Regions from separate parts of the Homo sapiens genome. Here all the other regions are reported to be linked to region 5. The links are microRNA targets in miRTarBase. Many come from high-throughput screens and were not tested one by one. Region 5 holds a microRNA gene; each other region holds the end of a gene's coding sequence.
Evidence for each region. The annotated mature microRNA hsa-miR-4284 reads GGGCUCACAUCACCCCAU and lies in region 5 at 1,562-1,579, opposite strand. An mRNA with a match to its seed (bases 2 to 7 or 8) in the 3' UTR can be bound and repressed. Matches are read on the target gene's strand: a 7mer-m8 pairs with bases 2 to 8, a 7mer-A1 pairs with bases 2 to 7 and ends in A, and an 8mer does both.

Region 1: miRTarBase lists RNF2 as a target of hsa-miR-4284. Seed matches in the 3' UTR shown: 7mer-A1 at 736-742.
Region 2: the mRNA of NAGK is a reported target of hsa-miR-4284. Seed matches in the 3' UTR shown: 7mer-m8 at 1,713-1,719.
Region 3: miRTarBase lists NFX1 as a target of hsa-miR-4284. The part of its 3' UTR that is shown has no 7-base or 8-base seed match.
Region 4: the mRNA of PHKG2 is a reported target of hsa-miR-4284. Seed matches in the 3' UTR shown: 8mer at 2,581-2,588 and 8mer at 2,103-2,110.
Region 6: the mRNA of RAB10 is a reported target of hsa-miR-4284. The part of its 3' UTR that is shown has no 7-base or 8-base seed match.
Region 7: the mRNA of ZNF124 is a reported target of hsa-miR-4284. Seed matches in the 3' UTR shown: 8mer at 1,262-1,269.

What each region holds. Positions count from the first base shown.
Region 1 is chr1:185,099,683-185,103,755 of GRCh38, forward strand. RNF2 (ring finger protein 2) reads left to right here. Exons shown (of 7, transcript NM_007212.4): 6 at 109-280; 7 at 518-2,921. The coding sequence ends at 619. Among named protein-coding and RNA genes, the nearest start is that of TRMT1L, 55 kb to the right of the region's middle.
Region 2 is chr2:71,078,012-71,082,011 of GRCh38, forward strand. NAGK (N-acetylglucosamine kinase) reads left to right here. Exons shown (of 10, transcript NM_017567.6): 10 at 307-1,797. The coding sequence ends at 497. Among named protein-coding and RNA genes, the nearest start is that of NAGK, 11 kb to the left of the region's middle.
Region 3 is chr9:33,369,237-33,373,310 of GRCh38, reverse strand. NFX1 (nuclear transcription factor, X-box binding 1) reads right to left here. Exons shown (of 24, transcript NM_002504.6): 24 at 2,154-3,405. The coding sequence ends at 3,333. Among named protein-coding and RNA genes, the nearest start is that of AQP7, 31 kb to the left of the region's middle. RefSeq lists an enhancer at 191-691.
Region 4 is chr16:30,756,872-30,760,938 of GRCh38, reverse strand. It overlaps PHKG2 (phosphorylase kinase catalytic subunit gamma 2), which reads right to left. Exons shown (of 10, transcript NM_000294.3): 10 at 1-4,067. The coding sequence ends at 3,842. CFAP119 (cilia and flagella associated protein 119) reads left to right here. Exons shown (of 9, transcript NM_001014979.3): 3 at 271-333; 4 at 486-655; 5 at 1,215-1,285; 6 at 1,481-1,597; 7 at 1,692-1,761; 8 at 1,838-1,927; 9 at 3,285-3,516. The coding sequence ends at 3,463. Among named protein-coding and RNA genes, the nearest start is that of CFAP119, 3.2 kb to the left of the region's middle. RefSeq lists enhancers at 1-952, 1,917-2,016.
Region 5 is chr7:73,708,832-73,712,905 of GRCh38, reverse strand. It overlaps MIR4284 (microRNA 4284), which reads right to left and starts at 1,589; the gene lies at 1,509-1,589. It overlaps STX1A (syntaxin 1A), which reads left to right. Exons shown (of 10, transcript NM_004603.4): 2 at 3,784-3,861.
Region 6 is chr2:26,134,738-26,138,814 of GRCh38, forward strand. RAB10 (RAB10, member RAS oncogene family) reads left to right here. Exons shown (of 6, transcript NM_016131.5): 6 at 201-2,717. The coding sequence ends at 284. Among named protein-coding and RNA genes, the nearest start is that of GAREM2, 36 kb to the right of the region's middle.
Region 7 is chr1:247,152,784-247,156,860 of GRCh38, reverse strand. ZNF124 (zinc finger protein 124) reads left to right here. Exons shown (of 4, transcript NM_001297568.2): 4 at 1-1,872. The coding sequence ends at 295. Among named protein-coding and RNA genes, the nearest start is that of ZNF124, 17 kb to the left of the region's middle.

The sequences.
Region 1 (4,073 bases), not on the chromosome of region 5:
ATTGCCATTTTACTTAGTTTTTAAGAAATGTATTAGTTCCATAATTTAAGTACATTTTTCTCATTGGCATATTCTAGAAATGAAATTTTTAATGATTTATTCTTCTAGATACATAAAGACTTCTGGTAACGCCACTGTTGATCACTTATCCAAGTATCTGGCTGTGAGGTTAGCTTTAGAAGAACTTCGAAGCAAAGGTGAATCAAACCAGATGAACCTTGATACAGCCAGTGAGAAGCAGTATACCATTTATATAGCAACAGCCAGTGGCCAGTTCACTGTGAGTATTTAAAATAATAGACTGTTGAAACTGGGAGCACACTGACCAACTAACTGAGTGGCAAGTGGTGGGGTAGAATCTAATAAATAATGTAAAAAACCGTAACAGTGTTAAGTGACAAGTAGTTATTCCTAAGATTTGAAAAAAAAAGATTCTGTGGACTTCCATTTTAGTTTCATTTCATTATTATTGTGGTTTGTGCAGTTTTCATAATTTTTTCTTTCTTTTTTGTTTTAGGTATTAAATGGCTCTTTTTCTTTGGAATTGGTCAGTGAGAAATACTGGAAAGTGAACAAACCCATGGAACTTTATTACGCACCTACAAAGGAGCACAAATGAGCCTTTAAAAACCAATTCTGAGACTGAACTTTTTTATAGCCTATTTCTTTAATATTAAAGATGTACTGGCATTACTTTTATGGACAGATCTTGGATATGTTGTTCAATTTTCTTTCTGAGCCAGACTAGTTTACGCTATTCAAATCTTTTCCCCTTTATTTAAGATTTCCTTTTTGGAAGGGACTGCAATTATTCAGTATTTTTTTCTTTCCTTTAAAAAAATATATCTGAAGTTTCTTGTGTTTTTTTTTTTCCCCACAAAGTGTGTTTCCACTTGGAGCACCATTTTGACCCAGGAATTTTTCATAGTTTCTGTATTCTTATAAGATTCAGTTGGCTGTCCTTTTCCTGCTCCCCTCAAAAGATTTTTAGTCATACAGAATGTTAAATATTATGTATTCTGACTTTTTTTTTCCCCCGGAGTCTTGTATATTTATAGTTTTCTATATAAACTGTAGTATCTTCATGAAGACCCAAGGCTCAAATTTACTGTCCTTAAAAACAATTCTCATAGGATTATTCTTTTCATGGTATTTTCTTCCATAATATCTCATTTTAAAAAGAAGTTCTTTATGAACTTAGTGTCCATTGTCATGCAATGTTTTTTTTTTTCCATTCTTTTTCCCTGTAATTTTGGAATTTCTGGTCCTGGGAAGAATCAAACAAAATCTTAAGTTCTATGAGAACTTGGTTCATTGACATATTCTGCTGAAGAAAGAAAAATTAAATTGGTAGTAAAATATAGTCTTCAAGTATACGTTTGAGAGTGCTTTTTTTTGTATTAGTTCTGCTGTCACTTCATTTCCTGTATTATATGTGATGTTTTTCCCCATTAAAATACCAGAGATAATGGAGATATTTTGCACTTTAGCCTTGATGAAAAGTACAAGATATGTTCAAAGCTTCCCTAATTTTTTTCTTATTTGTAGCCACATAAGTTTCAAGAATAACATGGCACACAGAACAATGGAAAAAAGTTTGTTTCCATTGGAAAATTATATCATTTTGGGTTGCCACATCAGTTTATAAATTTGGCGCTCTTTTAATTACACTCTGTAGAAGGTTAATAGAGCTTGAGCCCTGCTTTAATATGTAGTGAAAGATAATTCTGTAGAAAAACGTCAGCCAGTAGGGTAAAGTCATTCTACTGTTCTTAATTTTTATATTGAGGAACAATATTGGGTGTTTGGGAGCCAGAAAGCTTTGTTGACAGATCAGAAATAAGATTGACTTGGGTGTTATATTTCATCTCTCTCCAGACTCTAGGTATATTTCCAACTTTATATATCACAGTATTTAAAAAGACATGTTTGCATTGAGAAATTAACCCTAAAGGGTTTTCAATAGGGTGTAGACCTCCAGTACCTTTGTAACTAAAGTCTGTCTAGTCATTGTAAATATTTATCTGTCAGTTTTGACAGATTGGGGCCAGCTTGATGTTTTAAATCTTCAGCCCGGTATGAAAACTTAAAGGTATATATTCAATTTTTTACCATTTTATGGAAAATATTTAAAATCTGTTTTTACAGGGTTTTTTTTTTTTTTTTTTTTTTGTAATCTGTGCCATGAAATTTGAAAACCACCAAAAATCAAGGGAACTTTTATATATTCAATTCCTTTTCTGGTGTAATGTTAAAGTTGTATAGATTATTAATGCATGCCCACTGAATATAACCCTGGTTTTGTGATAAAACTGCTTAGATTTTGTTGATGACATTAGATTAGTAGTTGCATTAAATAACTAAATTCCCATTGTGATTAATTGAAATTTTGTCTTTAAGCAGAGAGTTATTTGTGACTATAAGCTTTGTGCTTAGAGAATGTATGTGTTTTTATCTGTCAGTATGGGAGGATATAAACTGCATCATTAGTGAAATTATTGGTTGTGTAATCCTTTGTGAAATATAATTCTAGGTATTTGATAGGGTATTGAGTGTATTTTGTGTGTGTGTGGATGTGTGTTTTGGGGTACGGGGAGAGGCGATGCTATTGGCCATCACTACCAACCAGGGTTTCAAAAAGTATTACCTAAGTAATTTCTTTTATCACTATCTCAACTGAGGAAGAAAAGGCTCACCACAAGTGGTGTGAAGGCTTTGGGTACTTAGTTCTAAATTTTTTTATGGTAACATATACATAGCCACATTTACAGTTTTAACCATTTTAAGGCATGTAATTCAGTGGGGTTAGGTACATTCACAATGTTGTGTAATGATCACCGCTGTCTACTTGTAAAACTTTTTCATCACCCCAAACAGAAACTCTGTGTGCAATTAAAGTAATGCATTTCTCTTCTTCTTAACCCCTAGCAACCTCTATTCTACTTTCTCTTTTTGAATTTGTCTATTTTAGGTGCCTCATGGCACCTGTGGAATCACACATTATTTTCAAGGTTCATGTGATAGCATATATCAGAATTTCATTCCTATTTATGGCTGAATAATATTGTATGTATGTGCCACATTTTGTTTATCCATTCATCTGTTGATGGAGACTTTTGGTATTGTGAATAATACTGCAGTGAACATTATTATAGAAGTATATAATTGAGTTCTGCCTTCTGTTATTTTGGGTATATATGAAGGAATAGAATTACTGCATCATATGATAATTCTATGTTTAATTTTTTGAGGGACTCCAAACTGTTTTCCATAGCAGCTTCATTATTTTACATTCCTGCCACCAATGAACAAGCGTTCTGGCTTTTCCGTATCCTCTGTAACACTTGTTATTTTCTTTTCTTCTTTTTAAAATAACTATATTAATGGGTATCCTTATGATAGCTGTCTTACTGGATGTCTCCTTTCATTGTGGTTTTAATTTGCATTTCCCTAACAGCTTGTGATGCTGAGCATCTTTTTCTGTACTTGCTGGCCATTTGTGTATTTTCTGTGGAGAAATGTGTATGTGTATTCAAGTCCTTCACCCATTTTTGACTGGGTTCTGTTATTGTTGAGTTGTGGGCATTCTTTATTCTAGTTAGTAATCCATTATCAGATACATGATTTGCAAATATTTTCTCCCATTCTTTGGGTTTTCTTTTGATTCCCTTGATAGTGTCCTTTGATGTACAGAATTTTTTTTATTTTGGTGAAGTCTAGTGTATCTGTCTTTTTTCTTTTGGCTATGCTATTGGTGTCATATTCAAGAAGATTGCCAAACCCAATGTCATGAAGATTTTCCTCTTTTAAGAGTTTTATAGTTTTAGCTCTTAGTCTTTGATCCATTGTGAGTTTTGTATATGGTGAAAGGTCAGTGTCCAGCTTTGTTCATTTGTATTTGGATATCCAGTTTTCTTAGCCTTTTCTCCACTGAATGATCTTGGTGCTCTTGTTCTAAATCATATGTGAGGGTTTATTTCTGGATGTTGTATTCCATTGGTCTATATGTTTGTCCTTATGCCAGTACTACACTATTTTGATTACTTTAGCTTTGTAATAAATTTTGCATTATA
Region 2 (4,000 bases), not on the chromosome of region 5:
GCCTTATGCCAGGCAGTTGGATGGTTTCTACCGGACATTCTGAAGTAGCTCAAGGACTCCCATTGCTACCATGGAATTCCTGGCATTGGGTCCTTTGGAGCTGAGAGGAGAGCAGGCCCCCTATGTTGCTGGCTCCAATACTCGAGTACCCAGTGCACCCTGTGTGCTGGGCACTTGGCATGTAGGCCCCTCCAGCATCTCTACAGGAGTACCTCAGGGTCTGGGCGTCCTTGTCTGTCTTCCTTCCTGGCCCCAGTACAGGTTGCTGTTCTCCTCTTATCTCTGTCCTTGTGTTCTTCCCTCCAGGTTTTCTTCTGGCGCTGACCCAGGGCAGAGAGATCCAGGCTCAGAACTTCTTCTCCAGCTTCACCCTGATGAAGCTGAGGCACTCCTCCGCTCTGGGTGGGGCCAGCCTAGGGGCCAGGCACATCGGGCACCTCCTCCCCATGGACTATAGCGCCAATGCCATTGCCTTCTATTCCTACACCTTTTCCTAGGGGGCTGGTCCCGGCTCCACCCCCTCCAAGCTCAGTGGACACTGGGTCTGAAAGGAAGGAGTCTTTTGCTTCCTTTCTCCTTTTTACAAAAACAAACATAGAAGAAAATAAATGCACTTTATCCACTCCCCAATTGGACTGCATTATCAAACACATGTGCTATGTACATCCTCAGTGCACCTGCCAGCAGATATCCTGGAGGGCTCATGAGTGAATTTAGTCCAAGATTTAAAGCCCTGCCCCCAGGTGCTCAGCCTGTGATCTGTATCCACTCAGCATGCACTTGGGCAGATGATTTGTCTGTGTGCTACCCTTCCCCCCATATTACCATACATATGCACTGTGTGGCTGCCAGTTAATCTGTGACCTGTTTTCTCCTGTCGTGTCAAGTGGGTAACGATCCCTGGCGACCACAGTCAGCAGAAACAAGTGCTCACCATTCAGAACATCACAGGGAGTAACCTTAGGTATATCACACCCTCTCCTGAGACTCCCAGCAAGATTTAGGGGCTAGAGTACAATTCTAGACTGGGAGCATCTTTACCTCACTGGATTTAGTAACTGCAGGTAAGCAGGACATTTTGAAGTTTTTCCTATGAATGAGTTTTTGAAAGGTTATGAGGATGGCTGAGATCCAAGAAGACCAACTAGGTACCGCTCACCTCGGTAGCTGACCTATTCCTGGCTACTACTAGCCTGGCTCTGCTTACAGCGTGACACTATGTGTTGTGTGTTCCTGGGAATGAGGAGCATCAGTGAAGAGCAGACATGATTCCTGCCCTCTGGGTACCATAGTTCAGCCAGTGAAGGCAAACCTGAAGCTTCGGTTCCACAGCCTGTGCTGCTTGGTGAAGACTAAGGACAGGAGTCTCGATCCACAATAGCTGCCTCTCCAGGTGTTTTATTAGAGGCATGTGGATCATGTCCTGCACATCAGTTCTCCAACTTACAGACATCAGTTATTCTAGAGTTTGTTTTAAAACACGGTTTTGGCCGGGCACGGTGGCTCACGCCTGTAATCCCAGCACTTTGGGAGGCCGAGGCAGGTGGATCACGAGGTCAGGAGATTGAGACCATCCTGGCTAACACGGTGAAACTCCATCTCTACTAAAAAATACAAAAAATTAACCGGGCGTGGTGTCGCGCGCCTGTAGTCCCAGCTACTGGGGAGGCTGAGGCAGGAGAATGGCATGAACCCAGGAGGTGGAGCTTGCAGTGAGCCGAGGTCGCACCACTGCACTCCAGCCTGGGCGACAGAGCGAGACTCTGCCTCAAAAAATAATAAATAAAAATAAAATCAGGTTTTTGTCTACTCCCCTCCCCTGCCCTAAGGTATCTGATGATAATAGGTTAAGGATGGGATGGGGAATTTTCATTTCTATTATACTGAACAGCTTGAGTAATTTCTGCTGCAGAGGTCCAGCATCTGCACTTGAGGGAGTGCTATGCTACAGCTGGTAAGTTCTGATTAGGCCTTCTAAGACATCTTGAATACTATCTTGTTGCCCAAGTCGGATGATGCTGTTCTTTCACAGTGTAGCATTCACGTAGAACAGAATAGTAACAGCTCTCCTTCCATCAGCTCTAGCCCAGTGCTGCAAGCTGGAGCTTTGAGCAATAAGAACTCCAGCCAGGTCCCTTCTGAAAGAACAGCCAGCCATCTTCACATCCAGCTATGACCAAATCACTGTGGTCTAGCACTCAGCAAGTCTCCAGTCCAGCACCTGGTAAAAAGCTTGCAGAGAGAACAAGGACACAGCAGAGGCATCTTTGCTATATCCCACAGTCTTGAAAAACTGTTAGGTTATTAATGAGTGGTGAGCTTTGGAGATTTTTTTAAATAATGCTCTCAGGATGAGGATCAAACAGCATTTTGGTGAAAAGAGTTTATAACTACTGAGACCTACTTATGTTCTTCAGAATATGGCCATCACTTTTCCTTAGAATTGTCTAGACTGCAATTCCAATTGGACAGTGGAGGTTTTAGTGGAGGAGCACATCTTGATTTTTTTAGTCCCAGCATAGAAATGTTGAAAAAAATGCTGAAAAAAGGTAGTATTAAAGTGCATAAGGTCAGATGTGTTCCTAGTTCCTGTCACATTTAGGAGATGTGATGAGGTCACTTCCCAGTTATTAAAGCTCTATTAGGCTGCAGTGCAGAAAATCGCAAGTGATTTTTTAAAATTTATTTTAGAGGTGAGGTCTTATTCTTGCCTAGGCTAGAGTGCTGTGGCACTATCATAGCTCACTGCAGCATTGAATTCCTGAGCTCAAGTGATCCACCTCAGCCTTCCAAGTAGCTGGGAGTACAGACATGTACCACCACACCTGGCTAATTCTGTCATTTTTTTGTAGAGATGGGTCTTGCTATGTTGCCCAGGTTGGTCTCAAACTCCTGGCTTCAAGCAATCCTGCTGTCTTGGGCTCCCAAAGTGCTGGAATTATAGGTGTGAGCCACCATGCCCAGCCCAAAAGTGATTTTTGCTGAGTTTCTCCCCTTTTATTATTTTATTTTATTTTATTTTATTTATTTTATTTTATTTTATTTTATTTTATTTTATTTTATTTTATTTTATTTTATTTTATTTTATTTTATTTTATTTTATTTTTGAGACAGAGTCTCACTCTGTTGCCCAGGCTGGAGTGCAGTGGTGTGATAACGGCTCACTGCGACCTCTGCCTCCCAGGTTCAAGTGATTCTCCTGCCTCAGTCTCCCAAGTAGCTGGGATTACAGGCATGCAACACCACGCCCTGCTAATTTTTTTGTATTTTTTAGTAGAGTTGGGGTTTTGCCATGTTGGCCAGGCTGGTCTCAAACTCCTGACCTCAGGTGATCTGCCCGTCTTGGCCTCCCAAAGTGCTGGGATTACAAGCGTGAACCACTGTGCCCGGCCTTCTCCCCCTTTAATTTTAAACTTATAGTGTCCCCCAACAAACTATCAGAAGAAATTCATGGGATTTTGTATCACCAAGGCATTAAGAGATGTATACAGTCCTCTCATCTGAGCCTGTAACAGCCCTGTGATGAGACAAGAGAGCTTGGAACAAGCATTGGAATGAGGCTAGCACTGCCTTATCTCCCTGTGTGATCACAGGGATAGTACAGCTTCATCTGTCCCTTTCATTCAGCAAACATTTATTGAATGTCTTGCAGGTGTGATGAGTACTCTAAGCATTAAAAGTAAGTACACCAAGGCCAGGCGTGGTGGCTCATGCCTGTAATCCCAACACTTTGGAAGGCTGAGGCAGGCAGATCACGAGGTCAAGAGATCGAGACCATCCTGGCCCACATGGTGAAACTCCATCTCTACTAAAAATACAAAAATTAGCTGGGCGTGGTGGGGCGCACCTGTAGTCCCAGCTACTCGGCAGGCTGAGGCAGGAGAATCACTTGAACCCAAGAGGCGGAGGTTGCAGTGAGCCGAGATCACGCCACTGCACTCCAACCGGGTGACAAAGCAAGACTCCGTCTCAAAAAAATAAATAAGTACACCAGGCCGGG
Region 3 (4,074 bases), not on the chromosome of region 5:
AAGGAAGGCCAGCACTACACAGGAGGGATTCTCCCCCAAACCTTAATCTATAGGACTCAGTGAGCGAGTCTTTGCCCTTCCCCCTCCCTCAAGACTGACACTCCTCCTCCTCCTCCTCCCCTGCCACCTTCTCTGGCCTCTCCAAGACAGGATCTAGGGCTGTGGCCAACAGACCTGCAATTAGGAGGGCCTGCTCTCATCTCCACAGTCCCGCACACACCCACTATTGCATGCCAGGCAGGTAACACTATTGAGAACAGCCGGCCCTGCCAAACAAGCCAGAGGGAATTTCAGAGAGAAGAATTTGGTCGCTGGAAAGCTCTAGCCCATAAAAACTCTCCTGCTGAAAGAGAGTATGGGAGCAGGGAGAGAAGTTACCACCTGATTCTCAGGGAGCAACAGCTTGGGGTCCTGGTGCCCTCCCTCCATGCATGGGGTGGTGGAGGCACAGGGGTCTTCCCGTCTAGCTCATGCTCCTGTACACTCTTGTCCAGTGCCACTGCTCAGTGAGGAATCCACCAAAGCTACAAGCAGCAGCTTCCCCTTGCTGAGGAGACCGGGGGTCTCCCCTTGGTGATATGAGGGGGGCTAGTTCTCCCGCTAACCTCTGGCATCCAATCCTACCTCCCTGATCTGAATCTCTTCCCTCTTTGCAGTGCCAACCCCCATCACCCTCATTTTCTCTCACCCGGATCACTTCTGCAGCTTCCTGGCTGAGCTTCCTGCCTCCAAGTAGCCCTCCAATCCCTTCTATACTCTTCTGCCTGAGGGACTGCTCCAGAACAGGGTGGGTAAAATAAAGTCCCTGGTCAAATCTAGCCTGCTGCCTGTTTTTGCACAACTCATGAGCTAAGAATGGTTTTTATGTTTATAAATCGTTGGGGAAAAAAGTCAAAAGAATATTTTGTGACATAAAAATCATATGAAATTATTTCGGTGTGCACAAATAAAGCATTAGAACAGAGCCTTACTCTTTTCATTTGCATATTGTCTACGGCTGCTTTCACACTACGATGGCAGAGTTGGATAGCTGCAACAGAAACTATAAGTCTCACAGTCTACAATATTTACTATCTGATCTTTTTTCACAAAACATTTGCTGAATCCTGGTCTAGATCCTAAATCTGGCCATGCCACTCTGCTTAGAATTCTTGTCACTCCCTGTGGCTCTCCACGAGCTGACCCCTGTCCACCTGTCCAGCCTCATCACCTGTGCCCCTAGTTGTCTGCCTGCTCTGGACAACCCTTACTCAACCATTCCCCCAGCCCTGTCTCCTGCTGTTTACCTTCTCTCAGCATGGGCCTCTTTCCTCCTCCAAATGGCAGCCTACCATCTCAAGCCTCAGCTCAAATGCTTCCTCCCATTTCACTTTCCCACACGTGTCCTGCTCTGACCCCCAGAGCTAACCCATTTCTACCGCAACTTCACAAAATATTCCTCTTAGGACTCTTCAGCTTTTAATAACCGATTAACAACCTGTTGGTGGCAGACTAGCCAATTCCACTGAGAACATCTGTTCACGTGTGTCCTCCCTGGATTACTAAATGTACGAAACCAGGCTGCTTCCCACAGCCCTGGCACAAGGCTGGCACAGGGTAGGCATGCAAATATTCACCAGAAGAGGCCTGGTTAGCATTCCACACCTTCTACTTGGCTAGTATTATGGAGGAAGATGTGTACATATTTTCTAGATACTAAGTATCATTTTTATGAACTTTGAGGATCAGGTACCTCCACGTGTATTACTCCTTTAATCTTCATAACCCTAATGAGGTCAGTGAAACTTTCATCGCATCAAGCGGCAAATTATGTGGCACAGCTAGAATCTGAAGTCAGGTCTCCTGCCTTTTGCTGATTCTGAGATACTCTCACACGTACTATTCACCCACTGAACCCACTGCTTGAAAGAGGTAACAGATGCTCATGGGCTTCCTGTTGTGTGTGGGGCCACTGACCTGCACTACATGGGTCCAGAGAGAGGTGGTTTTGTTTTGTGTCACTTCCCTCCAGTCACCTGTTCCTGCTGCTGTACCTGATCCCTTTTGAAGCAGACTGGGTAAGGACCAAAGGACAGCCCTGCTACAGGAGGAGGAGGATTGAGGAAAAAAAATGAAAAGAAATAAAAAAATGAAAACACCAAAAGGCAGCCCTATAAAGTTAAATTTTATAATTTAATTAAGTGCTTGTTTTTGTCACTCTACTTCTCAAGTCTCCTGCTACTGCTCTGGGGCTCATGGCTTGCTCTAGGGCAGAAGGAAGTTGCTGGAAGCCTGGCCTCCAGGCTGGAGGGGTGCCAATGCAAGGGTCACACTAATGGAACTATCAATGCACCTGCCTTAAAGGAGCCTGAAGAATGCCTCCAGTGGGCTGCTGGGCATAAGCCCTGGACTGTCCATATACTACTTGGAATATTCAAACAGAGTCCAGAGCTCAGAGGCAGGGAGAGCCAATAGGCTGCTGAAGGCCTAGGGAAAGCAACACAGGACAGTTGTCCATTTGAGACTCTTTCTCTATCAAAGAGGAGTTAGGGATATACTGGTCAGTTCAGAGACCACAGTGTGACCCTGGCAGAAGAACTTGCTCTCTATATTTCCTACCATCATGGGGGACGGCCAAACTGATTGTTACTGAACAGGTTCAGTGATGTGGTATGAGAAGTGCCAGGGACTTAAGGAAATAGAATTCTGTAAAGCAGCCTGACCCCCTTCTAGGTCTAGAACTGATCACATTGAAAATGCCAAAATAAGTTCAGCTAGATATACCTATGAGAGGTTTTGGCAAAAGACTTAGGTATGATGGCTGGGTTTAAGATAACATGTGTGATTCCGGATATGGTATACCAATTCATTATTTGGTATTTCAGACTAAAAAATTCATTTGTGCTCCTAAAGATTTTGATCAGTTTGGGTAAAGCAAGCAATGTCTGTCTGATGTTTCAGGCATTTTCAGGAGGACAAATAACTGGGACAACTGAGGCTATGACTTAGTGGCATAAAGTTGGTTTCAGGCTAAAAGTTTGGTTTGTCCAAATAAAGCCCAATAGTCCCTCAACTCTCAGAGCAATCACAGTGATGGTGTAAAGAGCCTCTTTGAATGCGTGATTGCATACCTAGTGACCATACAATCAGAGATCTGGTCATAATGAAACACTTTATACAGACAGGAATAGACAAGGGATTTCTGACACACTCATGCTTTGGATGTGTCAGTACAAGACAGTATGTGAGACTGTGATTCTGCCAGGCAGAGGGGAACGGGCATGATTTATCTGCTGGCAAATAAGTCTCCACTATACCTAATCATTCTTTTATCTAAGTGCATCATGATCTTCTTAGTCCTGGACGTCAAAATAGTCAATTATTGGCTCCTTGGTTATTTTCTGTAAATTACTGCTCCCAGGATTCCTGAAAAACAAACAAAGAATGATCAGTCTTTTCTTCTTTGGGGGAAACAGATACAGGACTTCAGAAAGTTAAGGATCAGCTGATTTACCATTTGTGAATCTTAAACATTTATTTTATTTTTATTTTAGTCTTACTTTTTTTCCTTCTGCCCTTTGTGAGCAATTTTTTTAACTTTTGTGTTTCCTTCTAGATTTACATATTACATGGGGAATTTTATTCTGTGAGATAACAAATTCTCTATTTACACTTTACAGTTTAGAGGTAACCTTTCACAATCTATTTACAGGATTTCATATATGATGATGATTTTACTCTGCCTTCACAGTTCAATGAATGCTCAGTTAACAGCTTAAGCCAAGCGAGCATCTCACTTGTGAAGTTTTGATAGTGGGACAAACATGAGCTGGTGATTTTGAAATTTGGTAATGGGCACATGGGCATTTATGATAGTAATACTATTCTCTCTACTCTAAAACATTTCCATAATAGAGTTTTATACAAAAATAAAGCAAGCCAAGGGTTTTTAAAAAGATAGCATGGGATGGCCAGGTGTGGTGGCTCACGCCTGTAATCTCAGCACTTTGGGAGGCCAAGGCGGACGGATCACGAGGTCAGGAGATTGAGACCATCCTAACACATGGTGAAACCCCGTTTCTACTAAAAATACAA
Region 4 (4,067 bases), not on the chromosome of region 5:
GGCCACAGGGAGTACTTGACCAAGGTCATACAAGGTAGTGGCAGAGCAGAAAAAAGAATTCAAGATTCCTAACCCTAGGCTTTAGAAATGGAGAGGCTCATAAGAGTTCATTTAGGCCCAGAGAGTTAACGATTTGCATAGTCACACAGCAAGCTGGCAAAAGAGCCCAGCTTCACGCCGGTGGCCAACTCCCAGTCTCACGCACTAGCTGTCACAGCCTTGTCATGATAGGTAACGGCCACCAATACTCTTTTTCTTTTACTATAACAGGAAGTACCTGGACGTCCATTCCATGCACCAGCTGGAGAAGACCACCAATGCTGAGATGAGGGAGTAGGGACTGAGGGGGGCGTGGGAAGAGCTCTTGGCAAAGGCTGAGGGGTCAGGTTGGGAAAACATGAGGAATGGCTGACTCCAAAGCATGTGGTGGGTGTAGGGTGATGAAAGGAGGCCCAGTTGTCACTCACTCCTCTCTCCCTCCCAAGGGTGCTGGCTGAGCTGCTGGAGCTAGGGTGTCCTGAGCAGAGCCTGAGGGACGCCATCACCCTGGACCTCTTCTGCCACGCGCTCATTTTCTGCCGCCAGCAGGGCTTCTCACTGGAGCAGACGTCAGCGGCTTGTGCCCTGCTCCAGGATCTTCACAAGGCTTGTATTGGTGAGAGGGGGCAGCTACCAGGTTTGAGCCCCAGGGAGAAGAGGAACCGGGCCTGGCACAAGTGACCATGGGAAGCAGAAGCAGGGGATTTCTGCCTGGAATATGTCATTATTAGTAGCATCATCATACACAAGCCATCAGCTTTCCAATCCACTGCTTCCTTATCTAGAAATTAAGGATACAGCACACATTTTACAGGACTGTTCTGAGAAATAATATATGCAAATATATGCATAGTGCACAATAACACCTGCTTTAGAATGTTTAATAGCTCTTGCTTCAGAATGTTTAATAGCTGAAATGATCTATTTCTTGGTTTATTCCCCTAGAATATAAGCTTCGTAAGGGCAGGACCTTGTCTGTCTTGTTCAGTGCCGAAAACCATACAGTGGGCATATAGTGGGTATTCAGTATTTGTTACATGAGTTAAGGAAACAAGCCAGTGCTGAAACCCAGATCTGTCTGCTTCTGAAGCTCATGGTCATAAACAGCTGTTGAGTGAAGTGAATGAATGGATACCAGAGAGGGCCTCACTGCTGCATCTTGCTTTCCCTACCAGCAACCCCCTTGGGCAACGTGGAGGAGTGCTACCGCTACTTCACCAGTGTCCTTTTTTGCCATGGAGTCAGGGTCAGTTCCCCTGGAACATTCTGGAAACTTTACCCATCCCCAGACAAGGTCTCACCCAGTCTCTCTCACATTCATCACCCTTATCTTCTTGTGAAGACCCCAGTGGGCTCTCCTTGCTCCTGTTGCTGGGCTTTTGGAGGCAAAGCCAGGGCTCCGGAAGGTAGTCAGGGTTCTAATTCCGAGTCACCACCACAGCGGCCTCCTTTCAGCATCGACCTCTTCAAAGAGGAACAGCTGCTGGCCTTGGAAGACTACGTGGTCAACACTTACTTCCGCCACTTCAAGCTCTATAAATACGTCTTCACACCCCAGGTAGGGGGTGGTGGACCATGAGGAGCCACCCTCAACCGCCCCTCCCCTCAGCACAGGTGCACTCCTTTCAGCCTCCCTCTGCCTTGCTTCCCAGGTGCGGCTGGATCTGTCTTTGACTTACATGGGGCTACAGCCACCCAAACTGTGGCCAGAGAGTGAGACGGGTAAGGGAGAGTGCCAGGGCAGGGCTGGGCTGGGCCAGGCCTGGGGCCACAGTCTCTTCCTGCTTCTGGTTTGCAGAGAAAGAAGAAAGCAAGGAGATGGAGGAGCAGGCAGTTACCCCGCAGAAAGAGGAACTAGAGACAGTGGCCCCACCAGAGCCAGAGCCAAGTGAGGATCTGGAGAGGGCAGGCTGCCCTGTCCCTCTGAGCAGGTGTAGAATGAAGGGTTTGGATGACATCAGGACTTCAGACTTTTTGTTTTTAGTCAGAGTCCTTTCTCTAAATGATCCCTTATGCAGAAGTCCAAGATGACAGATAAAAGCACAGCTGCAGGCCAGGCGTGGTGGCTCACACCTGTAATCCCAGCACAATCTGAGGCAGGCGGATTGCCTGAGCTCAGGAGTTCGCGACCAGCCTGGGCAACACCGTGAAACCCCCTATCTACTAAAATACAAAAAATAGCCAGGCATGGTGGTGCGCGCTTGTAGTCCCAGCTACTCAGGAGGCTGAGGCAGGAGAACTGCATGAACCCAGGAGGTGGAGACTGCAGTGAGCCAAGATCTGGCCACTGCACTCCAGCCTGGGCAACAGAGCAAGACTCTGTCTCAAAACAAACAAACAAACAAACAAAAAGCACAGCTGAAGTGGCTCCAGAGAAATGATCATTAGAAAGCCAATGACGGTGGCTTAAAACCTATATGATGGGTTGATGGGTAAAGCAAACCACCATGGCCCATGTATACCTACGTAGCAAACCTGCATGTTCTGCTCGTATCCCAGAACTTAAGAGTTAAAAAAAAACAAAGAACAGGCCAGGTGCAGTGGCTCACAACTGTAATCCCAGCACTTTGGGAGGCTGAGGCAGGCGGATCACGAGGTCAGGAGATCGAGTCCATCCTGGCTAACACTGTGAAACCCCGTCTCTACTAAAAATACAAAAAGTTAGCCGGGCGTGGTGGCGGGTGCCTGTAGTCCCAGCTACTGGGAGGCTGAGGCAGGAGAATGGCATGAACCTGGGAGGCAGAGCTTGCAGTGAGCTGAGATCGCTGCCACTGCACTCCAGCCTGGGGGATAAAGCAAGACTCCATCTCAAAAAAAAAAAAAAAAAGAGAAAGCCAATGACAATAACAGCCAGCACATACTTGGCAATAGGTGTGCAGTGCATGCCCTGCTCTAAGCATTTTACATAAATTAACTCATTTAATCCTCCCTCAATCCTATGTGCTAGGTATCACTATCCACATTTCATACAAGGAAACTGAGGCACAGATAGGTTAAATAACCTGCCTAAGGTCACACAGCTACTGAGTAGGGATCAGAATTTGAAGCTGCAAAGTCCAGCATAGCCACCCTACCCAACTACCTCTCACACAAGGGCTTGCTAACATTTCCTAAAGGGAAACAACATTGCTACCTCTATATCCCCACCAGGGGAAATTTGGGGACTGTTTGCCCAACTAGGGACCATCCCCCCATTGCCAGACAGCATCTCTCCTCACCCTGCCCCTTCTTCCCTGCCCCTGCAGGCCACATCCACGTCCTCCGAGCCTACATCAAGACCCAAGTGAACAAAGAGCTGGAGCAGCTCCAGGGGCTGGTGGAGGAGCGGCTCAAGGCCAGCGAGGAAAGGCTCAGCAGCAAGTTGACTGCACTAGAGCGGCCCTTCCAGCTACCTCCGGGTAAAGGCAAGAGCAAGACCAAGTGACCCCCAACATTTTCCCCAATAAAGGTCTGGGCCAGAATGGCACCATCCCTGCACCCTGCTGAGCACCTTCTGGGCTTTCCTGCCCAAGCCAGACAGACACAGGACACCTGTTCTCCCTGGCGTGTAGCAGATTTTATTTCATATGCAGTGCATGCAGCACTGACCGGGCCAGGCGTGGCGTTCAGAATGGCTCCCTTCCACCCCAGCTCTGATCTCAGAGTCCTGGCCAGTGGGGAGAGAGGTACCGGGCTGGTCTTCAAGAGGGTAGCAGGATCATTAGTGGGCCTGAGGCCAGAGGCCAGAGCCCAGAGGAGCTGGAATGATCAAAACCCTTCTTCTGGAGAGTTCTGCTTCCTGGGAATCCCTGGGGTTGAGGTCCTAGCCCAGCACAAGCACGGCCTCATCCTCAGTTATAGCAGCAGAGTCTCCCTCCTCTTCAGGGCCCATGATGGGAAAAGGCCCAGGGGGCCGGTGCTGAAAGAGAGCCGCCCGGTTCTGCTGCTCCCCTTTCTTTACCCAGTGCCCGTAGAGCCGGAAGGCACAGTTGTCGATGAGGTGCCGCACTGACCGCAGCGCATAAGGGTCCCTCAACAGTGCATTCTTG
Region 5 (4,074 bases):
CAGTTTGTGTGCTGTATGACAGGAGACAGAGGCACAGTGGAACAACTCTTGGGCAGGGGCTGTAATTTGGGGTCCCTGGGAAGGATCTGAAAGGGAAGGAATACTTAAAAAGAAAAATCTAGGGAGGATGTGGATGCCGCCTTCAAATCTATAGCAGGGGTACCCCAGGGAGAGGGCACCCACAGGTTCTTTATGGCCTGGAACCAAACCACAGGGAAGAGAAGGACTCTAACAGTTGGGGCTGCCCGAGATGGGCAGAGCTGTCTGGGGAAGCTAGTGAGCTCACTGTCACAGGAGGTTTGCAAGCTGAGGCTGGCAGCTGAAGCCAGGGGGACTTTTCAGGTCCCTTAGGGCCTGAGAGTTTTCAGCCATGGCTCCAATAGGAATGTGAATGGCGTGTGGAAGAACAAGGTGCGAGATACTGATTTGGGGGGGCAGGGAGGCTTCTGGAAGGAGGTGGCATCGAGGAAGAAGGGAATGTCACCTTCATGGAATCAGCATCCCGGGCAAAGGGATGTGCCTGGGGGAAGTTGGGGGCAGAGGGTGGATTGTAGGGCCAGGAACCAGTTGTAGGTGTGGGGGAGTGGGGTCTGATCCCAGGGGAGGGCAGCAGGATAAAGAGCAGAGCTGGGGGTGAAAATTCCCAAGAACGAAGAAGTAGAAGGACGTGGGGAGGAAAGGCCCACTTCGCCCATCCCCTCTAGGTTTTGCTTGGAGCTGTGGCTGGTTTGACCATGCCTCAGAGGTCAGGCCCTCAGCCCCCCGACTGGCTTTGGGGCCAATCTCAATGCCACCTCCAGGGTAGACTTGACCTGCGTGCCCCCATCTACCCTGGCCCTGATCTCCCTTTCCCCAGCCCTACCCTCATAGACGGAGGGTCCAGAGGAGGATGCGGGCATCTCTCCTCCCAGCCCTTCTGTTAGAGAAGCTTCCTGGTCCAGCCTTCAGCCTTCTGGGAAGGTAGCAGGTCAGAGCTGGCCGGATGCCTGGAGAAGATCTGCCCTCATTACACAGATGGGCAAGCTGAGGTCAAGAGAGGCACCAGACAGGTGCCAGGGGTCTCTGAGGGCAGGACAGGGGTTCGGTGGGGCTGGCAGTGACGCTCGTCTCTGGCCACGGAAAAGGAGCTGGATAATTCTCCATCCACCCTTTGTCATCTACCCTGATCCTCTGAGCACCAGGGCAGAGAGGGCAGGACACTGAATGGCAGGAGCTCCTGGGGCCACTTCCCAACCTGGCAGCCTGCCCAGGAGGAGGAACTGGGCTCCTCCTGGCAGTGCTCTGCCTCAGTTTCCCTAGGGAGGGCTCCTCTGACTCAACTCCTAGGCCTGTCACGGTCTAAAAGCGTGAAAACGGCTCCTGGATTTTCTGTGTCTGTAGGGAGCTTGGTGGGGGAGGGGGTACCACCTGGTGACAGCCCCAGGCACTCGGTGGGGAGTGGGAACGAGGATTTATTTTAGCTGCTGGGGAGGTGGTACGATATCTTAAAGAGAGGAGGCCCCTCTGAGCCGCCTCTATCAAAGCTCCTAACTACCCCCTCTCCCCATGAGTCCCCACTTTGATGGGGTGATGTGAGCCCCTCACAGAACATGCTCAGGCCGGGCATGGTGGCGGCTCACACCTATACTCCCAGCACTTTGGGAAGCCAAGGTGGGAAGATCACTTGAGCCCAAGAGTTTGAGACCAGACTGGGCAACATAGTTTGACCCTGTCGCTACAAAAAAAAAAAAAAAATCAAAAAGTAGCTGGGTGTGGTGGCATGCATCTGATGCATCTGTAGTCCCAGCTGCTTGGGAGGCTGAAGTGAAAGGATGGCTTGAGCCCGGGAGGTTGAGGCTACAGGGAGTTATGATTGTGCCACTGCACTCCAGCCTGGGTGACAGAGCGAGACCCTGTCTCAATCAATCAATCAGTCCATCCATCAATCAAACAAACATACCTGCCCTGCTTCCCCACTTTTTCTCAGCCCTCCCTCCATGCAGCCAGGTGTCACTGTCCCCATTTCACAGAAGAGTAAATAGAGCCAGAGGGGTTAAGGCCCAGCCTGATGAGTCCCATCAGTTCTCTCAGCCCCTCAACCTCCACCTGCCTCCGTCCTGACGCGAGAGCACCGAGGTGGGGTCAGTGCTGAGCTAGTCAGTGGCCACTCCCGTGAGGCACTCAGAAATGAGGTGGGAACAAGATCAGATGTGGTGGTTCACGCCTGTAATCCCAGTACTTTGGGAGGCCGAGGCGGGTGGATCACCTGAGGTCAGGAGTTCGAGACCGGCCTGGCCAACATAGTGAAACCTGTCTCTACTAAAAATACAAAAATTAGCTGGGCATGGTGGCATGCACCTGTAATCCCAGCTACTCGGGAGGCTGAGGCAGGAGAATTGCTTGAACCCAGGAGGTGGAGGTTGCAGTGAGCCAAGATCACACCACTGCACTCCAGCCTAGGTGACAGTGCGAGACTCTCTCAAAAAATAAAAAAATAAAAATAAAAGAGGTGGGAACAAGCCCTGAGCCCCAGGCTGAGAGACCTCAGTCCCTGCCCCAGGGTGGCCACCCCGGATATCCTTGCCTTGGCTGCAGAGAGAGACCTGGCCTTGCCAGCAGCGTGGGCTGACCCTGGCCAACTGGCGGTATGAGGCAGACAGTAATAATTGTGCGCAGCATGCTGGGAAGTCAGAAGTATGATTACCCCTGCCCCACGATGGGGGTGGCTTTTGTACAGCTGGTCCTGGGACAGTGGAGTGGGGCTTGTAACTGTGGCTGAGGCCTAAGGCAGGACCCAAGCCAAGTGGCAACATGACTGTCCCCTTGTGCCTGCTGGGCCCAGGTCTGGGGACTGGAAGGAGGCAGACCGAGGTCCAATGGCAAGACCGACAGGGAGGCCAAGTGCAGTGGCTCACACCTACAATCCCAGTGCTTTGGAAGGCTGAGGCAGGAGGATCGCTTGAGGCCAGGAGTTCAAGACCAGCCTGGGTAACACAGTGAGACCCCCGTCTCTACAAAAATAAAAATTAAATTTAAAAACTGTTTTAAAAAAAGACTCACAGGAGATTCCTAAGAGATCTGATCCGTGCCACCTCGGGACTGGGGTTTAGTGGTGCCCAGGGCTGGGACACAGTAGGCAGGTCTCCCCTTATAGGGCCCACTCTGGAAAGGGAGCTTGGGACCTCTGGGCTCCACCTGAATTAAAACCACTGGAGCCAGGCATGGTTGTGGAAACCTATAATTCCAGCTACTCGGGATGCTGAGTTGGGAGGATCGCTTGAGCCCAGGTGTTTAAGGCTGCAGTGAGCTGTGATTGCACCCCTGCACTCCAGCCTGGGTGACACAGCAAGACCTCAACTCTACAGATGTGTGTATGTGTTTGTGTGTGTGTGTGTAAACCACAGGGCCAGGAGAGTAGAGAATGCACTTTCCAGGCAGCTGTCCTAGGGGCCTAGGGGACCCAGAGGGCCCAGACAGAGCGGCCGGCCCCAGGCTCGCTTGCCTCCCCAGCCACAGGGAGGGGGCAGGCAGATAGGTGAGGGAGGAAGTCCCTGGCCCAGAGGCTGAGACTTGGCCTTGACACCAGTGTATCAGGCAAGGTTCCTCTCTCTGTGCCGGGCCCCCAGTGGTCCTCCAGATCTTACTGTGGCTGGGAGCGGAACAGCCAGGCCTGTTCTTGTCCCTGCCCAGAGGCCCCCAGGGAGAGGGGGAGGGGCAGGGCCCTGGCGCTGTACCCTGGGCACCTGCGTGTGTACAGGTGGGTCCTGTACATACGTCCACTTATGTGTGCACAACCCCGCACAGGCCAAGGACAGCGATGATGATGATGATGTCGCTGTCACCGTGGACCGAGACCGCTTCATGGATGAGTTCTTTGAGCAGGTGGGAGCCAGCACACCCCACCCTTCCCGCACACTGGCAGAACTTGGGGGGCCACTCTCGCCTCTGAGCCAGGTTCAGTGCTCTTTCACACCTGCACCTGGCTCAGCAGCTCCGGGGTGCCAACGAATGAACCGTTTTGAGGGTGAATAGATGGAAGCTCAGAGCGGAGCTAAATCTGGGATCACACTCCTCCCCATCTGGGTCTGGAAGGAT
Region 6 (4,077 bases), not on the chromosome of region 5:
TCACAGCTTGGAGGAAGCAGGCAAAAAGAAAATCAAAACAAAGCTTCCAAATCTTTACTTTGCACGGAGGGGAAACCTATCTCCTGTGATTGTAGTTGTATTTTGTTGTATAAATTGACATAAGAATATTCCTGTTGAATCGTGATTTTATCCATGGCAGTGTTTTTTCATGAGTTATTTTCCTTGTGTGTTTGTTGCAGACCCCTGTAAAAGAGCCCAACAGTGAAAATGTAGATATCAGCAGTGGAGGAGGCGTGACAGGCTGGAAGAGCAAATGCTGCTGAGCATTCTCCTGTTCCATCAGTTGCCATCCACTACCCCGTTTTCTCTTCTTGCTGCAAAATAAACCACTCTGTCCATTTTTAACTCTAAACAGATATTTTTGTTTCTCATCTTAACTATCCAAGCCACCTATTTTATTTGTTCTTTCATCTGTGACTGCTTGCTGACTTTATCATAATTTTCTTCAAACAAAAAAATGTATAGAAAAATCATGTCTGTGAGTTCATTTTTAAATGTACTTGCTCAGCTCAACTGCATTTCAGTTGTATTATAGTCCAGTTCTTATCAACATTAAAACCTATAGCAATCATTTCAAATCTATTCTGCAAATTGTATAAGAATAAAGTTAGAATTAACAATTTTATTTTGTACAACAGTGGAATTTTCTGTCATGGATAATGTGCTTGAGTCCCTATAATCTATAGACATGTGATAGCAAAAGAAACAAACAAAAGCCAGGAAAACACTCATTTTCGCCTTGAATATGTAAATGGGATTAATTTTGTCCTGTGCCTTATGTGGAAAGGAACTTCTTTGGTTTTCCTTTTTTGTTCTGGTGGAAGCATGTGCAGGAGACATATCATCCAAACATAAACCATTAAAATGTTTGTGGTTTGCTTGGCTGTAATTTTCAAAGTAGTTAATTGAGGACAAAGGGTAATGCAGAAGTGATAGCTTTGGTTTGCTGAGTCTTGTTTTAAGTGGCCTTGATATTTAAAACTATTCCTGCCACCATTTCTTCTCCTTGGCCACTTCTTCCTTGCGTCTCCCTGCATGCTGCTTTATTTGCTTCTCCCTCCCCAACCACCTCATGGTATATTTAAGAGTGAAAGGGACAAACTAGTAGGTTTGTCAAGTTTAATATAAAGCACTGATGTAACTTGCTAGGTAAACGGAAAGATAAGTTCTAACTGCCTACTATCCAATGTCAGTTAATTGGTGTCTTCCCCCCTCATTTGCTCTCTTCCCTAAAATGTGTCCCAGATGCCTTCATTTGCTGTTTTACTTCTATGTTCTGCTTTTCCTCCTCTCTTTGTTCCCTTCCTGTCTATCCATTGAGTTTATGAAATGGAAGAGTTAACTGCATGCACTAGTGTTTGGAGGGTGTTGTGGTTTGTCTTTCTAATTAGGTGTATAGCCTATTCACTTTCCTAGAATAAATCTCTTAACCTAAATTTGAGTAGTCTGCATTTTGGCAACTCCTCTAGCAGCTTGGTAGCCTAGTACAGGTTGTTTTTTTAAAAAAGGAAAAGCAGGAAGGAGGAGTGAATTTTATTAACATGTTTGCCAAATGTATTGAGATTTGGCCTCTGAAGAACACTTTTTCAGTGTTAAGTTTCTTTACCTTAAGATTCAGAAATACTTTAGAATATTATTAATTTTAAGTCCTGTCTTTACATCCTTTTGGAAAACTTGTATTACCATGGGTTTGGAAAAAGGACAACGAAAGGCTTTTCATGTAAAGATAAGATCTTTAGCTATCTCTAACCCTGTCCTTTTTTCACTGCATTTTTTCTAGTTTTGCTTCATTGCTTATCATTAGGATAGGGTAAGTGAAGTTTGCTATGCTGCTAGCATCCTAAGATGATACCTTTGTTGAAAGAATTGTGAATAGCATGATTCATTTCTAGCAGAGGCTGAGTTTAGGACAGCAGCTTCCATTGAGAAGTCTTTCTGTGTCGTGAATAGCATTTTAATGACCTCTTGGCTCACATAAGCAAACAACATAGGGACGTATCTGCTATGAAAATCCACAAATTTTTCAGATAGTGCCCTAAAAACAATTTTATATGCCTCACTGGTTGTTATTCTTAGGTTATTCCCACACTTGACTTTATCATTGTTTACTACTAGTAAAAAGCAGCATTGCCAAATAATCCCTAATTTTCCACTAAAAATATAATGAAATGATGTTAAGCTTTTTGAAAAGTTTAGGTTAAACCTACTGTTGTTAGATTAATGTATTTGTTGCTTCCCTTTATCTGGAATGTGGCATTAGCTTTTTTATTTTAACCCTCTTTAATTCTTATTCAATTCCATGACTTAAGGTTGGAGAGCTAAACACTGGGATTTTTGGATAACAGACTGACAGTTTTGCATAATTATAATCGGCATTGTACATAGAAAGGATATGGCTACCTTTTGTTAAATCTGCACTTTCTAAATATCAAAAAAGGGAAATGAAGTATAAATCAATTTTTGTATAATCTGTTTGAAACATGAGTTTTATTTGCTTAATATTAGGGCTTTGCCCCTTTTCTGTAAGTCTCTTGGGATCCTGTGTAGAAGCTGTTCTCATTAAACACCAAACAGTTAAGTCCATTCTCTGGTACTAGCTACAAATTCGGTTTCATATTCTACTTAACAATTTAAATAAACTGAAATATTTCTAGATGGTCTACTTCTGTTCATATAAAAACAAAACTTGATTTCCAGCTGTGTGGTTTGGTTTTCATTTATTTATGGAATTGGAAGATTACTTCTGAAAAAAATGTGGAATCGCAAACTCAAAGAGTTGACAAAAATGGGAAATCACTGTCAACCTATGGAAAACTGGAAAGGCAATTTCAAGAACTGTCTTTGCTGAGAAACTACATTAAAAAATAGAATTATCTCTGGGATCCTAAAGCGGAATCATCCTTGTGCCAAAATAGGAGATGCCACGATCCTAATCACACCTGGCTTACACTAGTTGGATGTGCCTAAGGCCACTACAGCTGAGGTCACCTGATTCCTCAGGGGGACCAAGCTGGGCTCCTCATACTGGAGGGTAAATCCTTGTTTTAGCAGCAGCTGGCCTCTTACTAAGAAACAAAGTATTGGCCAGGTGCGGTGGCTCATGCCTGTAATCCCAGCACTTTGGGAGGTCAAGGCGGACGGATCACGAAGTCAGGAGATGGAGACCATCCTGGCTAACGTGGTAAAACCCCGTCTCTATTAAAAATACAAAAAAATTAGCCGGGCGTGGTGGCGGGCGCCTGTAGTCCCAGCTACTCGGGAGGCTGAGGCAGGAGAATGGCGTGAACCCGGGAGGAGGAGGAGGAGGCTGCAGTGAGCCGAGATAGCGCCACTGCACTCCAGCCTGGGCGACAGAGCAAGACTCCGTCTCAAAAAAAAAAAAAAAAAAAAAAAAGTATTGGCTGGGCGCTGTGGCTCACGCCTGTAATCCCAGCACTTTGGGAGGCCGAGGCGGGTGGATCACCTGAGGTCAGGAGTTCAAGACCAGCCTGGCCAACATGATGAAACCCCGTCTCTACTAAAAATACTAAAAGCCGGGCGTGGTGGCGCATACCTGTAATCCCAGCTACTTGGGAGGCTGAGGCAGGAGAATCACTTGAACCCAGGAGGCAGAGGTTGCAGTGAGCCGAGATCGCACCACAGCACTCCAGCCTGGGCTATAGAGCAAGACTCCTTCTCAAAAAAAAAAAAACAAAAAACAGTATTTCCTGCTTTTGTTATACATAGCAACAGCCTTGTCTTTATGTGTAGGGAAAAGAAATGTTTGATCCTATATTCAGGCTTTATTAGTCAATAATAAAGATAAATATTTGTTGACAAGATTGTCTCTGCTGAAAGTATATGTAGAGTTTTTCTCAGATGCAGTGATTTTAAGAATCACATGGAGTGTTTTTAATGTTCTATTCCTTCCCCCCAACATACTTGTTTTGTTGGGACCTACAATTCTGCCTTTGCTGGGTGCAGTGGCTCACGCCTATAATCCCAACACTTTGGAAGGCCAAGGCGGGTGGATCACCTGAGGTCAGGACTTCGAGACCAGCCTGGCCAACATGGTGA
Region 7 (4,077 bases), not on the chromosome of region 5:
GGCTCATGCTGGTGAAGAACCCTATCCATGTAAGCAATGTGGGAAAGCCTTCAGATACGCCAGTTCCCTTCAGAAACACGAGAAAACTCATATTGCACAGAAACCCTATGTATGTAACAATTGTGGTAAAGGCTTCAGATGTTCCAGTTCCCTTCGTGACCATGAAAGGACTCATACTGGAGAGAAACCCTATGAATGTCAGAAATGTGGCAAAGCCTTTAGTCGTGCTAGTACCCTTTGGAAGCATAAAAAAACTCATACTGGAGAAAAGCCCTATAAATGTAAAAAAATGTAAAGGCTTTAATCACTACAGTTTTTGTCAAAAACATGAACAGTCACATACTTGAGAGAAACTGTGAATGTAAGGTGTAGGAAAGTACTTAATTTTCCCAGATTTCCTCAAATACATGAAACGAATCAAACTGGAGATAAACCCTATGACTATAAGCAATAAGGTAAAGCATTCAATTTTTCCATTTCTTTTTGAAAACTTGAAAGGACTCACTGAAGAAAATCCATATGAATGTTTAAAATGTGGTAAGGCCTGCAGTTGTTCCAGTGGTATTTGATGGTATAACATAACTCATTCTAGAGAAAAACTTTATGAAGGTATCGAATGTGAGAATGCCTTCATTTATCCTATAACTCACTCAGAGACACATGGTAACACATACTCCAGATTGACCTTATAAATAAAAGAATGCCCACCAGATTGAAATCCTAGAAATACAGAAAATTCTGAATTTTAACAATTACTTTAAAGGTCATGTGAAAACTCCCACTGGAAATAAATCCTGTAAATGTAAATATTATGGAAAACCTTATGGAAAATAATTATAGTACAATTCTCAAGAAAATTCACTATGTGAATGAGATGTTTTAGGAGCTATAAATAAATTGAATATATTGGTTGCTCATTTTTGAAGAGAGTCTCTAGAATATAGATTTTCACTTCTTTTGAAAAAAAAAAAATTGAGGTGAGACTTTTTTTTTTTTTTTTGAGATGGAGTCTCACTTTGTCGCCCAGGCTGGTGTGCAGTGGCACAATCTCAGTTCACTGTAAGCTCTGCCTCCCAGGTTCACGCCATTCTCCTGCCTCAGCCTCCTGAGTAGCTGGGACTACAGGTGCCTGCCACCATGCCCAGCTAATTTTTTGTATTTTTAGTAGAGATGGGGTTTCACCGTGTTAGCCAGGATGGTCTCAATCTCCTGACCTCGTGATCCGCCCGCTTCAGCCTCCCAAAGTGCTGGGATTACAGGCGTGAGCCACCACGCCCAGCTGAGGCAAGACTTCTGTAAGTATTCTTCAAGCAGTAGTACAAGAGTTAAATATGTATTCTTCTTTTTTAAGCTGGTAAATAAATTTCCTTTTTCTACCCATTTTAAAGTGTGTTGGTTATATGGGTAAATTGAAATGTATTTCTTTTCCTTTTTTCTTGCATAGCCATTTTAAAAAATATTTTTTAAATATTTAAAGTATAAAATATTTTTAAAATTTTTTAAAAATTTTGTGGGTTACACAGTAGATGTGTGAAATGTATTTGTAGGTTTAACTTCTGTGTAGTTTAATTATTTTGTTATTAATTGGCCATTGATAAATGAGTCTATTTTCTTTGCTAATAGAGTTGCTGTCAATTTGTAAGTATGTAAAGTTTATTATAGAGTATATTCTCACGTGAATTATTATTTTCATCTGTTGTTCTTTACATTGTCATTATTTTTGGCTATTTGCATAGGTAACATTGGTTTAAGGAGAGAGACCTGTGATCGAACAGTGTCTTGTGTCTAATCTGAGAAAGAAAGCATCCAGTCTTATCATCATGTATGATGTTAGCTGAGGGTTTTTAAAATAAATTCCTTAAAGCAGGTTGAGAAAGTTTCCTGCTGTTCATTATTATTGAATATTTCATTGTCAAGTGTTGTTGAAGTTTTTCTCATGGTTTTTGTGCATCTATTGGAATGATCTTGTGGTTTTTCAAATTTATTCTGTTAACATGGTATATCACATTAATTGACTTTCTAAAATAAGAAATTGGGTCTAACTTTGTCACCCAGGCTGGTCTCAAACTCCTGGGCTCAAGTGATTCTCCTGCCTTGCCCTCTCAAAGTGTTGGGATTACAGATGTGAGCCACTGTGCCCAGCCAAATTGACTTTTAGATGCAAAAACAACATTGCTTTTTTGGGGGGTTAAATCTCTCTTGGTAATGAAGTGTAAGTCTTCTTATATATTGGTAAATTCAGTTTTGTAGCATCTTTTGAGACATTTTGCATCTATATTGAAAGAAATTTGAGTACCCTAGCATAGTTTATAGTGCTATATACTATATAGTGTTATTTCATATATATGTAGTTTATTAGTTCATTCTTGAACTGCTATGAAGAAATTCCTGAGACTGGGCAATTTACAAAGGAAAGAGATTTAATTGACTCCCAGTTCAGCATGGTAGGGAGGCCTCAGGAAACTTACAGTCCTGGCAGAAGGTGAAGGGGAAGCAAGGCATCTTCACAAATTCACAAGGTGGCAGGAAGGAGAAGTACAAGCAGGGAAAATGCCAGATTCTTATAAAACCATCAGATCTCATGAGACTCACTCATTATCATGAGAACAGCACGGGGGAAACCGTCCCCATGATTCAGTTACCTCCACCTGGTCTTGCCCTTGACACGTGGGAATTATTACAAGTCAAGGTGAGATTTGGGTGGGGACACGGAGCCAACTTATATCTGTGTGTGTGTGTGTGTCACACATATGCGTGTACAAGGAGACATCCACTCTGGGGAGAATTAGGTATCTCAGACAGTTGCCTGACAAGTGATTGTTGTGTAGGAAAGCATAGTGACCTTGTGTTTTCTGTGCTGCTTTTTCTCTTGCTGCTGTTATGTGCACTCTTCTGATGAGGTGCATATCCATAGATCCTCATGATTTAGGTGCAGATGAGCAAAGACAAGGGAAATAATCACTTTATATTATCCTCTCCCAGTACCCCTCCCAGTACTAAACTCCTAGCCAAAGGGGGCTTTCGTTAGCATGGCTGCTCACCAGCATTCTAAAGATATAATCCTGTGACCACAAGACTTGATGAACTTAGACAAAATGACCTTCTTATGGACGCTAACTTCAGCAAGATTTAGTAGCCCTCACTGGAGGCTTAGGTGGTTTTCTCCACTGTGGGTTGCTGGGGTTCTGAACTCTTTCCCTTAATCACACAGATGGTCTACACTGTCTGTTTCCAGGTAGAGATAGTACCTGAAACCTGTAACTTTACATGAGTAGAAATCCGAAATGTTATAAGGCAATTGTTACAGCAAGAAAGGAAAAGACTAGTTATGTGATGTGCTCACATCCAGAAATCTAATAGCAGATGACTCACCAATCATAATAGAGCATGTCAGTTAAAGGCACTCCGTGACTTCAGTCCAGACAGGATCAAGTCCCCACTCTACTCCTGTCCAGTGTCTGAATTTAGACAAATGACTTACCCTCTCGATGTTTAAGTTCTCATCCTGATAATGGCAGCACCTACCTCACAGATTTGTGAAGAATAGAAAGTTACTACATGGCTGCTCATCACAACAGTGATGAATACATTGCAGGGACACTTTAACTGGTGTACATTTACATGTTGGAAACCTTTTAATAATTGAAAAAAATCAAGTAACATTTCTAAGGGTGAAACTAATGGTCAGTGCAGAGTATTGGATTTTATTTGACCTTTTTTTTTTTTTTGAGATGGAGTCTCACTCTGTTGCCCAGGCTGGAGTGCAGTGGCGCAATCTCAGCTTACTGCAACCTCCACCTCCCGGGTTCAAGCGATTCTCCTGCCTCAGCCTCCCGAGTAGCTGGAACTACAGGTGCCCGTCAGCACACCCAGCTAATTTTTTGTATTTTTAGTAGAGTTGGAGTTTCACCGTGTTAGCCAGGATGGTCTTGATCTCCTGACCTCGTGATCCGCCCGCCTTGGCCTCCCAAAGCTAGATAAGTAATTTTAAAATCCCTTAATCTTCTCAGAAGTACATGGGTTGTATATGTTTGTTCAGTGCTCATATGTTTATTCACTCATCTCCATAGAACTGTA